Regions from separate parts of the Homo sapiens genome. Here region 1 is linked to region 2. The links come from fine-mapping of genetic effects on gene expression. A gene starts in region 2. The other region holds a variant in brackets. All regions are shown on one strand. Distances are between the middles of the regions.

Region 1 (4,383 bases), 160 kb before region 2:
ACAAAAAAACAAATTGTTCAAGGCAAGCCTGGTGTGTCAAGCCCTTGTTCTGAGCACTTGGCTTATATTATCTCCCTTAATCCTTCCCACCACCCCATGTGCTAGATACTGGGATTAATTTAGTTGAGCTGTAATACATCAATACTGTGTGAAATGCTATGCAACATCTAAAAGGAAGACAGGTGGAGCTTTTATTTATTTTTTATTTTATTTATTTTTTGAGACACAGTCTCGCTGCATTACCCAGCCTGGAGTGCAGTGGCACAATCACAGCTCACTGTAGCCTCAACCTCCTGGGTTCAAACAATCCTCCCACCTCAGCCTCTCAAGTAGCTGGGACTACAGGCTTACACCACCATGCCTGGCTAATTTTTTTTTTTTTTTTTTTTTTTTTTTAGAGATGGTGTTTTGCTAACTTGCCCACGCTGATCTCAAACTCCTTTTTTTTTTTGGCTTTGGAATGGTCTGGAACTCCTGCGCTCAAGTGATCCTCCCACCTTGGCCTCCCAAAGGCCTGGGATTACAGGTATGAGCCACCGCACCAAGCCCAGGTTGAGCTTTTAAGGTATTAAAGATCCACTAGGTGAAAAAATAGAGTGAATGATACATATGCCATTTAAGGGAAGCACAGGAAAACTCCTATTTTGTTTATATGTGAATAGAGGCACATAGATGCCTAGAAAAGTGTCTGGGAGGAAATGAAACCAGATTGGCCACAAAAATCACCTCTGGAAAAAGGAAAAGAATGGGGACTTTCACTTTTTGCTTCATATGTTTCATGTACCTTTTTTTTTTTTTTTGAGATGGAGTTTCACTCTTGTTGCCCAGGCTGGGGTGCAGTGGTGCGATCTCAGCTCACTGCAACCTCCGCCTCCTAGGTTCAAGCGATTCTCCTGCCTCAGCCTCCCGAGTAGCTGGGATTACAGGCATGTGCCACCACGCCCGGCTAATTTTTTGTGTTTTTAGTAGAGACAGGGTTTCTCTATGTTGGTCAGGCTGGCCTTGAACTCCCAATCTCAGGTGATCCGCCCGCCTTGGCCCCCCAAAGTGCTGGGATTACAGGCGTGAGCCACTGTGCCCGGCTGTATTCAATACTTTCTTTTCCATTGCACAAGAACAGAATGCTAGGGAGGGGAAGAACAAATAGCCCTTCAATTTTCTAAAATTTATTTTTTGTAGAGATGGGATCTTGCTATGGTGCCCAGACTGATCTTTAACTCCTGGCCTCAAGCAATCCTCCCACCTTGGCCTCCCAAAGTGCTGGGATTACAGGTGTGAGCCACCGCGCCCGGCCGCTTTTTCTTTTTAAAAAGTAAAATATAACAGAGAAAACTGCACAAAACAGAAGTGTTCAAATTATTTTTTTTTTTTTGAGACAGGGTCTTGCCCTGTTGCCCAGGCTGGAGTGCAGTGGCTCATTCATAGCTCACTGCAGCCTCAAACTCCTGGGTACAAGCGATCCTCCCACCCTAGCCTCCTGAGTGGCTGGAAGGCCAAGGGAGGATCGCTTGAGCCCAGGAGTTTGAGGCTGTGCCACCACGTGCAACTAGTTTTTTTTTTTTTTTTTTTAATTTTTTTAGAAACAGGGTTTCGCTATGTCACCCAGGCTGGTCTCAAACTCACGGGCTCAAGCAATCCTCCCATCTTTGGCCTCCCAAAGTACTGGGACTACAAACATGAGCCATCTTGCCCAGCCCCTAGAACGTGTTATCAAATAAACACCGATGCAACCCTCACTCAGCCGAGAAGTAAAATATTGCCAGCCAATCCCTAGATGCTTCTGCTTGCCGCTTCCCAATCCTAACCAATGCCTTCTCCTGACAATTATGATGGTCATGTCTTTGCATTTCTCTAATGTTTCCCATCA[T/C]GATCAAACTAGTTTTGTTTTGCCTGTGTCCAAACTTTGCATAAATGAGCAGCATGTGTCTGGTGGACCTGGCTTCTTCCACTCAACATTATGATAAGAAGATTGACCATTTGGTGCCCATAGCTATTGCTCTTGCATTTTCATTGCTCTATAGATTCTTACTCAACATACCTTAAAAATTTTTTTATTCTGAAATAAGAGCGGGATGCTATTAAAAAAAGAAAAAAAGAGAACAAAAAAGTCCTCCAGTAAATTTAAAATATGGTAGTTAAGGCTGGGCACGGTGGCTCACACCTGTAATCCCAGCACTTTGGGAGGCTGAGGTGGGTGGATCACCCGAGGTCAGGAGTTCAAGACCAGCCCGGCCAACATGGCAAAACCCTGTCTCTACGAAAAAAATACAAAAATCAGCCAGGTGTGGTGGTGTGCACCCGTAATCCCAGCTACTCGGGAGGCTGAGACATGAGAATTGCTTGAGCCCGGGAGGCAGAGGTTTCCATGAGCTGAGAAGTGCCACTGCACTCCAGCCTGGGTGACAGAATGAGACGAAAAAGGAAAGAAAGAGAGAACGAGAGAGAGAAAGAGAGAAAGGAAGGAGGGAAGGGAAGGGAGGGGAGGAGAGGGGAAGGGAGGAGAGGGGAGGGGAGGGGAAGAGAAGGGGAAGGGAAGGGAAGGGGAAGGGAAAGGGAAGGGAATGGGAAGGGAAGAAAATTAGAGATTAATTCAGGAGATTCAACATCCGCCTAATAGAAATTCCAGAAAGAGGAAGTAGAGAATAGAGAGGCCGGGTGCAGTGGCTCACACCTATAATCTCAGCACTTTGGGAGGCTGAAGTAGGAGGATTGCTTGAGGCCAGGAGTTTGAGGCTGCAGTGAGCTATGATTGAGCCACTGTACTCCAGCCTGGAAAACAAAGCAAGACCTCGTCTCTAAAAGTAATAATACGCCGGGACAGTGGCTCCCCACACTTTGGGAGGCTAAGGTGGGCGGATCACTTGAGGTCAGGCGTTCGAGACCAGCCTGGCCAACATGATGAAACCCAATCTCCACTCAAAATAAAAAAATTAGCCAGGTGTGGTGCTGCACACCTGTAACCCCAGCTACCTGGGAGGCTGAGACAGGAGAATCGCTTGAACCCGGGAGATGGAGGTTGCATGAGGCGAGATCGCATCATTGCACTCCAGCCTGGGTGACAGAATGAGACTCTGTCTCAAAATAATAATAATAATAATAAAGTTAAATATAAATAAATAAAAGCAAATGAATAGAATTAGTTTTATTCATTTGTTTTGTTGTTGTTATTGTTTTGGAGACAGAGTTTTGTTCTTGTCACCCAGGCTGGAGTACAATGACGTGATCTGGGCTCACTGCAACCTTCGCTTCCTGGGTTCAAGCGATTCTCCTGCCTTAGTCTCCTGAGTAGCTGGGATTAGAGGCGTGTGACACCTCGCCCGGGTAATTTTTGTATTTTTAGTACAGACGGGGTTTCACCATGTTGGCCAGGCTGGTCTCGAACTCCTGACCTCAGGTGATCCACCCGCCTCAGCCTCCCAAAGTGCTGGGATTACAGGTGAGCTACTGTGCCCGGCACGGTAGCTCACTTTTTATCGTTTTTTGTTGTTGTTGTTGTTTTGGTTTTTTTTAAGACACAGTTTTGCTCTTGTTGCCCAGGCTGGAGTGCAATGATGCGATCTTGGCTCACCGCAAGCTCGGCCTCACAGGTTCAAGCGATTCTCCTGCCTCAGCCTCCCGAGTAGCTGGGATTACAGGCATGCGCCACCACGCCTGGCTAATTTTTGTATTTTTAGTAGAGTGGGGGTTTCTCCATGTTGGTCAGGCTGGCCTTGAACTCCCAACCTTAGGTGATCCACCTGCCTTGGCCTCCCAAGGTGCTGGGATTACAGGTGTGAGCCACGCGCCCAGACTTTATTGTTTAAATGCATATATACTGTAATTTAAAGTTTGCACAAAACATTATGCTTGTTATTTTTAAATATGTGATTATAGGCCGGGAACAATGGCTCACACCTGGAATCCCAGCACTTTGAGAGGCTGAGGCGGGCAGATCAATTGAGGCCAGGAGTTCCAGACCAGCCTGGGCAATACAGTGAAACCACATTTCTACTAAAAATACAAAAATTAGCTGGGCATGGTGGCTTACACCTGTAATTCCAGCTACTTGGGAGGCTAAGGCAGGAGAATTGCTTGAACTCAGGGGGCAGAGTTTGCAGTGAGCCGAGATCACACCACTGCACTTCAGCCTGAGTGACAGAACAAGACTCTGTCTCAAAAAAAAAAAAAAAAGGTGATTATAAGTGAGATGTATTATATTTCTTTGTCCTTAAGAAAAGTAAGCACAAAGCCACAGTCAAGAAGGGTATAGCCAGCAGAGGGACTGTCTTGGGCAAAGGTGTGAGCCAAGCACTGGGCTTGCTGGTGTGTCTGGGCTGGGTGAGAGACACAGGTGTTGGGAACCCAGGCTCTATGAGTGGGGCTGGGAGAGCAATGGCAGGTCAC
Region 2 (4,383 bases):
TCCCAGCTACTCAGGAGGCTGAGGCAGGAGAATCACTTGAACCCAGGAGGTAGAGGTTGCAGTAAGCCAAGATCGCACCACTGCACTCCAGTACCTGAAAGAACTCGGGGATGAGAAGTCAACATCTGTTGAGTCCTGTGCGGGGGAGTGGAGCCAGTCACTTTTGTAAAAGATACTTAATTGAGTCACAAAGCTGGCATGTGGTAAATGACTGCAGATGCTCCCCAATTCCAACAGGAAAAAAGCTCCTGGGCCCTGCAAACAAACACAGCCACAATCTGTCCTCTGCTTCCTTCTCTCCAGGCATGTCTAACAAGCCCCCCTCCTCACACTTAAGTCATACCAAATGCTGTTTGGGGACTCCTTGCCTTCTCGGGTATTGCCATTGGCAGGAATGTCTTTTTTCCTTGGCCTTCTGGCAAACTCTTCTTCTAGAACCATCCTTTGAGACCCCACACTACCTCATGTGCCCCCTATTCTCAGTAATGATTTCCCTAACAACCACCTCCCCCATAAAAGAACAGGACTCGGCCAGGCAGGGTGGCTCACGCCTGTAATCCCAGCACTTTGGGAGGCCGAGGCAGGTGGATCACAAGAGGTTAGGAGATTGAGACCATCCTGGCTAACACAGTGAAACCCCGTCTCTACTCAAAAAATACAAAAAATTAGCCGGGTGTGGTGTCGGACGCCTGTAGTCCCAGCTACTCAGGAGGCTGAGGCAGGAGAATGGCGTGAACCCAGAGGCGGAGCTTGCAGTGAGCCGAGATCCCGCCACTAGACTCCAGATTGGGCGACAGAGCAAAACTCCGTCCCCCTGCAAAAAAAAAAAAAAAAAAAATGCAGGGCTGGCCGGGCACAGTGGTTCACGCCTGTAATCTCAGCACTTTTGGAGGCCAGGACGAGTGGATCACCTGAGATCAGGCGTTCGAGACCAGCCTGACCAACGTGGCGAAACCCCGTCTACTAAATATACAAAAATTAGCCAGGCGTGGTGGTGTGTGCCTGTAGTCCCAGCTACTCGGGAGGCAGAGGCAGAAGAATCGCTTGAACCTGGCAGGCGGAAGTTGCAACGAGCCAAGATTGTGCCACTGCACTCCAGCCTGGGCAAGAAGAGCGAAACTCTGTCTGAAAAATAAATAAAAAGAGCAGGGCTGCCCACTGACTCTCTGGTGTTTCCCATTTCTAGTACTAACCTCTTCTATGAAACTTTTCAGAGACAGGCTCTTGCCGTCACCCAGGCTGAAGTACAGTGGCGCGATCTATCACAACTCACTGCAGCCTTGAATTCCTGGACTCACGACACCCTCCTGCCTCGGCCTCCCATGGAGCTGGGACTACAGGGGCGTGCACAACCACACCCAGCTAATTTTGCGTAGAGATGGGGTCTTGCTATGTTGCTCAGGCTGGTCCCAAACTCCTGGGCTCAAGCGATCTCCCTGCCTCGGCCTCCCAAAGTGCTGGGAATACAGGCGTGAGCCACTTCGCCTGGCCTCAGTGAAACTTATTTCACCGTGTTTTTCACTTACATATTTAGGTGTTCATAATACAGATGTACTTCTCCTTTACTGGACTCCTTACAGAAAAAGACCCCAAAGCCTATCACAGGGTCATAGATGCCCAGTAAATGCTGCTGCACATCACAGAATTGGTGCTTTTTCCGAGATCGCGGCCACGGAGCAGGCTGAAGAGTTTACGGTGCTCTCCTGGCCACCCCGGGGACGGCCTGGCCTCGGCCACAGAGAAAGCCGCAGTAAGGGGCCCAGGTTGGAGCCAGTCCCGCCCCAGGAGGTGCGCCTAACCCGGCAAGGCGGGTCCCCGTCTCTGGAAGCGAAGCTCACGTTACCAGAGGAGAAACTGAGGCCCATGGAGTCGCCGGGCCCCACCAGCCGCGGGCCCAAACCGCAGGTCGGACCACGAGGAGGCCGGGAGCCGGGACACCGCGGGCCGCCCCCACCCGACCCGGCCCCACTTACAGGCGGGCCGGCCGCTCCTCTCCTCCCCCGCGCGCAGCCACCCCCGCGCTACCGCCGCCGTCGCCATCAGGGCCAGCAGCCCAAGCAACACCGACAGCCCCATGAGCTCCGACATCTGCGAGAGCTCCATGTTGGTGGAACCACTGCCACCTCAGCTAGTGAGTACGCGGGCGCCCGCACGGCTCTGCCGGGCCGCGCACGCACGCGGGGGCGCGGCCTGGCCGTTGGGGAGCCTCAAGCGGCTGGGCCTGGCCGTTAGAGCGCCTGGGGGCGGAGCCTGGTTGTTACAACGCCTTCAGGGCGGGGCCTGGCCGTTAAAGCACCTCAAGGGGTGGGGCCCGGCTGTTGTGGCGCTCGAGGGGCGGGGCCTGGAGTTAGAGCATCTCCACCCGCCGAGCCTAGTTATTAGAGCGCCTCGAGAGGCAGAGTCTGGAGTTAGCGCGTCTCGAGGGGCGGGGCTGGGTTGTTAGAGCGTCTCGAGGGGCAGAACCCGGAGGTAGAGTGTCTCGAGGGGCGGGGCCTGGAAGTAGAACATCTCGAGGGGCAGGGCTCGACCCTTGGTGCGTTTCGAGGGGCGGGTCGCCTGGCGGTTGAGATTGCAGGGCTGCGGAGGGCGGAGGAAGGCGGGATTTGCGATCACTGCTCACGCCTCCTCCTGAAGAACTCACTGATAATTGTTTATTAAAGGCATTATTCCAGCCATCACCACACTGGATCCTTTCAAGGAAGCGGGGCGGGGATTATTATTACCATTTAACGGATAGGAAACTCAGCATCAGCGAAAGTTCAGATGGGCTTTTAAGGAAGAGTAGGCCAGGCGCGTGGAGTGGAACAGCCTCCGCAAAGACCTGAGAAGCTGGGATGTGGGAAATGGCTAGAGGGGCGGAAAGGTCTGGGGGACGTTGAGCGCTGGCTCCATCCAACAAGCTGCTCATTACAGGGAGAGGTGGGGCAAAAGCTGTGTCTGAGGATTCCCTGGATGGACCTTTGTGTGAAAAGACCAAAATCAGAAAACCGGCAGTGGCTTCAAGGATCCGAGAGGGAGGTGACGAGGGCCTGGATTTGGGGCTGGCCTGGCAAGTCGAAAGTTAAAAGGGAGAATTTTTAATAGAAAACTTATTTTATTTATTTATTTATGTATTTACTTTTGAGACGGTTGCCCAGGTTGGAGTGCAGTGACGCGTCTCGGCTCACTGCAACCTCCGTCTCCCGGGTGCAAGAGATTCTCCTGCCTCAGCCTCCAGAGTAGCTGGGATTACAGGCGCGTGCCACCATGCCCTGCTACTTTTTGTGTTTTTTATAGAGACGGGGGTTTTGCCATGTTGGCCAGGCTGGTCTCGAACTCCTGACCTCAGGTGATCCACCTGCTTCGGCCTCCCAAAGTGCTGGGATTACAGGCGTGAGCCACCATGCCGAGCTGGGAGATTATTTTTATTTTTTATTTTTTGAGATGGAGTCTCGTTGCACTGTCGCCCAGGCTGGAGTGCAATGGCGCCATCTCTGCTCACTGCAACCTCTGCCTCCCGGGTTCAAGCGATTCGCTTGCCTCAGCCTCCCGAGTAGCTGGGATTACGGGTGCCCGCTAGCATGCCCCGCTAATTTTTTGTATTTTTTAGTAGAGACGGGGTTTCGCTATATTGGTCAGGCTGGTCTTGAACTCCTGACCTCGTGATCCGCCCGCCTCAGCCTCTCAAAGTGCTGGGATTACAGGTGTGAGCCACCGCGACTGGCCCAGACCAGGAAATTTTTTCATAGAAAACTTATTTTTTTTTTTGAGACAGAGTCTTGCTCTATTGCCCAGGTTGGAGCGCAGTGGCGCGATCTCGGCTCACTGCAACCTCCGCCTCCTGGGTTTATGCCATTCTCCTGCCTCAGCCTCCCGAGTAGCTGGGATTACAGGCGCCCGCCACCACGCCCGGCTAATTTTTTAAAAATATTTTTAGTAGAGACGGGATTTCACCGTGTTAGCCAGGATGGTCTCGATCTCCTGACCTCATGATCTGCCCGCCTCGGCCTCCCAAAGTGCTTGGGGGATTACAGGCTTGAGCCACCGCGCCCGGCCAGAAAACTTCTTTTAAGGCCGGGTGCGGTGGCCCATGCCTGTAATCCCAGCACTTTGGGAGGCCGAGGCGGGAGGATCACCTGAGGTCAGGACTTCGAGACCAGCCTGGCCAACATGGTGAAACCCCGTCTCTGGCCAACATGGCGAAACCCCGTCTCTACCAAAAGTACAAAAATTAGCTGGGCGTGGTGTCCCACGCCTCTAATCCCAGCTACTCGGGAGGCTGAGGCAGGAGAATCACTTGAACCTGGGAGGCAGAGGTTGCAGTGAGCCAAGATTGCTCCACTGCACTCCGGCTTGGGTGATAAGAGTGAGACTCCATCTCAAAAATAAATATAAAATAAATAA

Which allele goes with the higher level. Positions count from the first base shown, and alleles are read on the strand shown. Sizes are in standard deviations (SD) of each study's normalised expression.
With allele C in place of T in region 1, the expression in subcutaneous fat of the gene that starts at base 2,133 in region 2 is higher (large effect, 1.1 SD a copy in FUSION).

The links. PIP is the estimated chance that this variant, and not a neighbour inherited with it, causes the effect.
Region 1: its variant is the best candidate, but not a certain one, in a credible set for the expression of TBL2 in subcutaneous fat (FUSION, PIP 0.59).

Annotation. Positions count from the first base shown.
Region 1 is chr7:73,413,548-73,417,930 of GRCh38, forward strand. No RefSeq gene overlaps it. Among named protein-coding and RNA genes, the nearest start is that of FZD9, 18 kb to the right of the region's middle. The variant T/C (reference allele first, on the strand shown) is at 1,868.
Region 2 is chr7:73,576,447-73,580,829 of GRCh38, forward strand. It overlaps TBL2 (transducin beta like 2), which reads right to left and starts at 2,133. Exons shown (of 7, transcript NM_012453.4): 1 at 1,974-2,133. The coding sequence starts at 2,103. RefSeq lists a silencer at 1,745-2,384 and an enhancer at 2,715-2,784.